Regions from separate parts of the Homo sapiens genome. Here region 1 is linked to region 2. A link means that fine-mapping ties the variant in region 2 to the expression of a gene that starts in the linked region. Tissue or cell type: esophagus mucosa. Region 2 holds a variant in brackets; the other region holds the start of a gene. All regions are shown on one strand. Distances are from middle to middle.

Region 1 (2,681 bases), 24 kb after region 2:
TGGCCAGGGCATGCCTGGGGAGGACTGGGTGGCCCAGCCCACTCAGTCCCCAGACTTTACCTCCCACTGTTGAGCGTTTCCTCGATGGGTCTCCTGGGCTGCAGTCCTTCTCCAACAGCTCTCGTTTTCCTGCCTGGCTGTCATCTCCGGGCCCTGACACTGGCAGGTGACCGCAGGTGGCCCTCCGCTCCCTGCTGCAGCCTGCTGTGGTCCTTGCCCATTCATGGCATGTCCAGGCCAGAACCTCACAGGGCTCTGGAGCCACAGGGTCTCCCTGGTTCTCAGGGCAGGCCTTGCTGGGCCATCCCCAGCCTGCGCAGGCCTTCACCAGTGCCCCTGGTGATAAGGGTTCCAGGGGCCCAACACCTGGGCTGCTTCTCCTAACACTCAGCAGCAGGAGATAAATAAGAATAGAAGGAAGGAAGAAAAGGAGGGAAGGGGAGTCTACCAACTCCAGGCCTCCCCACTCCTCTTCCTAAGTCTTCAGCCCCCACCCAGGTCTCTACATCTCCTCAGAACCTCCCTCTGTCCCTCAGTTGTCAAGGCTCAACATGGGGTCAGGGCCAGAGTGCAGTGTGGGTCAACTTCAGCATGAGGTCAGGGTCCTGGCTTAGACTGAAGTCAGAGTCAGTGTTCAGGCTGGGGCAGAGATTGAGGGCAGCCAGGGTCAGAAAATGGTCCTCCAGCCCTTCCAGGGACAGCCCACTTCTGTCCTGTGGGGCTGAAGATGCTGGCTTCTTCTGGAACCCTCCATAACACTGCCGGCTGGCAGCTCTGACCATACCATCCCCTGCTCTCCAGCTCTGGTGTCCAGGGTGACCAGAGCCGCCTCTGGGCAGGAAGCCAAGCCAGAAAGCCCAGGACATCCCTGAGCGCCTGTCACCATGGCAACCTGCCCGCTCTGCCCCCCCCCCAAACTCAAATCCAGTATATTTTTCAAATCCAGCATGACAGAATGGGAAGGGCCTCCTAGATCAGCAGATTCCAGTCCCACCCCCTTGTCCCAGATGGAGAAACTGAGGCCCATTTGCAGAAGGGAGGGGGACCTGTTGATTAGGGACCTGGCCCCAGCCTGTCCTCCCTCCCGCCCACCCCCACCTCAGTGTCCCTGGGGATGCGGAAGGTGGGGGCAGGGAGGGGGAGCCTGCGGCCCGATCTCCCGGGAAGGAGGGGGCGGGCCCTCCACCGCAGCGATGGCGGGGGCGGGCGGCGCGGGAACCTGACACCGAGGATGAATAAATGATGCTCGCTGACTACCCGTGGCCAAAGCCCGTGGCCACCGAGCGCCGGCTGGCAGGGGCAGTGACCGGCGGCCGGCCCGTTCGTCCCTGGGCTCCGCAAGCGGCGCGGTGGCACGAAGATGGCGGGGTGGCCGGGCGCGGGTCCCCTCTGCGTGCTGGGCGGCGCCGCACTCGGGGTGTGCCTCGCGGGGGTTGCCGGGCAGCTGGTGGAGGTGAGGCCGCGGCACGGAGGGACTGGGGAGGCTGTCACCCTCCAGGCAGGGGGCTGGGGGAGAGGGGACGCCTTTTTGATCCGGAGCTTGTTTGATCCCTTACTCTTGCCCTGAGAGATCCAGTCTCCCGGGCGATGCAGCCCTGCCCCAAGCCCTGCCAGGCTGTGAGAGAGACTCAGCCCCACTCTTAGGGTCCCTGGTCTGATGGAAGGGCACAGTACCCGATTTCTGGAACATTAGTCTGACGGGGGAGACTCACCTTGACCTTAGGGATTCCCAGCCTGACTTGGGGACACAGCCCTGCCCAGACTGATGGGGGATACTGGGCCCCCATCCTCCAGCCTTTGGTCTCACTGGCAGGGAGGTGCACAGCCCTGGGTTTCCTGGACCTCTAGTCTGATGGAACAGACCCTGAATTTAGGGTCTTCTGGAGGCAACAGCCTCTATCTCCAGAGATGTTCCAGGGACCCCTGTCTAATGGAGGGGGAGACATAGCCTTAAGATGGAGACGAGGGCATTCCAAGTTGGAGGGTGGGGGCAGCAGGATGAGGAGACCCTTTACAGAGAAGCTATGTGGAGCACTAGGTCCAGAGGGGCAGGCAGGGCAGGACCTAGGGACTGGGAAGTCTGACTTGGTCCTGGTGATAACCGGGAGCTTTAGAAGGTTTCTGCTCAGGGACAAGTCATGATGAGTTCTGGTTTGGAAGGAGGGTAAATTGGGAGCAGGCACACAGTGGGAGAGGTGGGAGGAGCTGCTGAGATAGCACAGAAGCTGGGGGAGAGCCCTGGTGGAGAGCCTGGCTGGGGCCAGGAAGGGTGGGGCCATCTGTAGCCTCCCTAACCCCCTTGTACCCCACTCCTGCGGAGCCTGAAAGGGGAGCCAACGAGGGAGCTGGCAGACCAGACCTAGAGTTCTGAATTGTGAGGCCAGAGGGAGAAGGCCCAGGAGCCAGGGCCAGGGAGGAGCAGGGGATGGAGGCTGTGCAGGCAGGGGCGGACCAGAGGGAGCAGGAAAACAGAAATGCAAGAGGCAGTGAGAGGTGCCCAGGGAAGTCCTGAGGGGTGGGGGCTTGGGGACAGTGTGGGATAGAGAGGACAGAGCCATGGGGAAGTTGTTATGGGGGGACACAGCCCTGAACTGGAGGGTTTGATGGGGACATAGGGACAGAGCCCTGGACCCAGATGTAGCCTGTCCCTGCTGTTGCCCAGAGGGCATGACCACAAGGCT
Region 2 (2,681 bases):
AACTCGCAGCAGACCCCTGTGAGTCAATGAGAGAGAAATGGTGTGGCTGCCCCTTGCCACAGAACTGGAGTTCTACCACCAGTCAACAAAGGCAAAAGCAGGTGGCCTCTCAGAACTGTGGACATGGCCTGCAGGGTTCATCCTCTCAAACCACAGAAGTTAGAAGGTTGGAGCTCCAGGATGTTAGCCTGAGAATCCAGCAGCAGAAGGAACTATAGCATCTAAGGCTTCTATTTGCAGTGTTTCATGGGGTCACAGCCCAGCCTGGGACTGCAGGTGTGTTCCGAGTCCAGGGCCAAGCTCAGCCTACAGTGGGGTGAGAGTGCACCTGCGGTCAGAGTCAGCCCAGCGCCTGGTTGGGTCTTGGACTCTAGCTGAGGGCTGCAGCTGGGCCTTTGCTCTCACCTCCCCACCCTCTAACCCTTTTGCTCAGCAGCTGCACACTGACCAAGCCTCTGGTTCATTGTTGAATCAGACACTTGGCATTCCTCCCAAATGCAAGGCAGAACTGATGCCTGGAAAGGGCACACTAGTGTCACAGGGCAGTAGCTGTCCCGTTTGCCACCGAGCCCACCTGTAGGCAGCCCAGAGTTCCTGGGCATGCTGCTTCACCTCCTCCTGGGCCAGCTCCTGCAGGTGCTTGTTGGCCCCGACACCTGCGTAGGTAGCCTGGAAGGTCAGCATCAGTGTCCGGAGCAGCTTTCCCAGGGGGTGCAGTGAGTTGCTCAGAGCCTGGGCCAGTGCATAGGCAACAGAGAGAGACTAAGCACTGGGGTCTGGAGCACAGCATGCCCACACCAGCCTCCCAACACTTCTCCCATCTCATACACGAGAACACTGAGGTCCTCTGAGGACAAGGGATCCACAGGCCTGTCCCCTTCAGTCAGCACCCTGCTATGAAAAATGGGAGCCCTTCCCCACCAGGGACAGTGACAATGTCACCCCCTTGGCCACCCCAGCAGGGCTCTCACCTTCCTGAGGTACAGCTGCAGGGCCTTGGGCTCCCGGTGCTGCAGCAGCTCCTCCAGGATGTCTTCCATACTGCCCACACTGTCCTCAGGGTGGGTCCTGGGCACCACACACAGCATCCCTCACCCACACCTCGGCCCAGCCCCCTCCCCCCAGGAAGCCCTCCCC[A/G]GCCCACCCTAACCTGTGCATGCTCACACAGCCGGCCTCACCTCTCGCAGGACAGGTAATCCTGAGACCTACGCAGCTCCCTGGAGCTCTGCACGTCGAAGCCCAGCAGGGCCTCCTGCAGGTCCCTGGGGCAGCCAGCACACACAAAGTCCCGGAAGGGGCTGTAGACTCCCTGCCAGCGGCTTTCCACGGGGAAGGCACCCACGCCCAGCTGCCTGCGATGGGGATGGAGGGTGGGTGATGGGGCAGAGAGAGATGGAGCTGAGGTAGGCAGGACTCTGCCCAGGCCCTTGGAGGGGTGGGGGTATGAGCCTGGCCCAGGATCAAGCCCCAAGAAGGGTGGATGGATTGAACCATGCAGAGGGGGCTGACCTCCACGGCTCCAGGAGGAAGAGCAGCAGAGAAAGGGACAGAGAATCTACCCTGCGACGAGAAGACAGACAGAAGCATATGGAATCCTGGAAAGACGGAGACAGAAAGGTGGGCAGATCTGGAGGCCAAGCCAGAGAGGGGGTCTTGGTCCAAGAGAGACCAGTGTCCAAAGTCTGGGATTCCCCTCCAAGACATCCCCCTCTGCCCTCCCTTACAGCTGGTTCCTTCCTGTGGTTGATCCCGCCCTGGCCAACAGGCTGGGGCCTGGCTGCGCATGTCTAATGGAGCCCTGCACTCCAGTGTCATGCTCGTAGGCTACACGCAGCCCACACTCACACCCAGGCTGGGGCCTGCCCCTAGGGATTGCTGTCCACTCCCAGCTCCTGCTGTCAGGGAGAAGCAGCATGCAGGGACAGCGGGCCAAGTAGTCAACTGTACTCCCTCCCTACATCTGAAATGCTGCCTGGGACCACTTCCCATTAGAACTGCCACCCACACAGATTCCTTCCTCTGTGCAATACTGAGTCTTCCTCAACAGACGCAACAAGAGCAACTGTTTTCCAAGGAGGAACTCTGTTCCTACAGGAAAAGAAGTCTATCCTTCTCTGGAATACTCCTTGATAATGACTGTGATTCCACTTAGCAAGTTTCCTTCTTTACCTTGGCTGCCAGGAAACTCAGAGCCAGGCTCAATGATCAGTTGTAAATGCCGTAGGACATGTCTACATATCCCTTTCTTTTAAGGTTAACATATGCTCTTATTTTCTATTTTTTTTTTCCTGTATGTTTGGTTTGTAAACCGTATTGTATCCTTTCGAGACAAAAAAAAAAAAAAAGCAGGACCTAAGCAAAGCCTACAAATAATATTTCTCTCCAGTTTTGTGGTGTACCGCATTATATCCACACAGCCCCTGATCCCAAGAGTCTCTGACTGGAGTTGTACACCCTGGGCTCTCGGAACTCTCTAGAGGGCTAAGAGGTGGGTGCAAAAAGGCCCCTCTGAGGAGACCTGAGTCTTTGGGATGGAAACACAGACACATCCCCAGATAGGCCCAGAGCCAGAGGGGCCAGGCACTCACCTCTTGCAGGTACTGCTCGGGTCTGGTGGGAGGGCAGCCGTGTCCAGCACACCCTGTGTGTGCAGTCCTCTCCCTGCCCCACTGCCGAACGAG

The links. PIP is the estimated chance that this variant, and not a neighbour inherited with it, causes the effect. A credible set is the group of variants that fine-mapping cannot tell apart.
Region 1: TMIE starts here. The variant in region 2 is the best candidate, but not a certain one, in a credible set for the expression of TMIE in esophagus mucosa (GTEx, PIP 0.71).

What each region holds. Positions count from the first base shown.
Region 1 is chr3:46,700,128-46,702,808 of GRCh38, forward strand. TMIE (transmembrane inner ear) reads left to right here and starts at 1,265. Exons shown (of 4, transcript NM_147196.3): 1 at 1,265-1,453. The coding sequence starts at 1,361.
Region 2 is chr3:46,675,671-46,678,351 of GRCh38, forward strand. It overlaps ALS2CL (ALS2 C-terminal like), which reads right to left. Exons shown (of 26, transcript NM_147129.5): 16 at 2,589-2,681; 17 at 1,179-1,352; 18 at 972-1,068; 19 at 575-732; 20 at 1-16. Among named protein-coding and RNA genes, the nearest start is that of ALS2CL, 17 kb to the right of the region's middle. RefSeq lists an enhancer at 110-658. The variant A/G (reference allele first, on the strand shown) is at 1,138.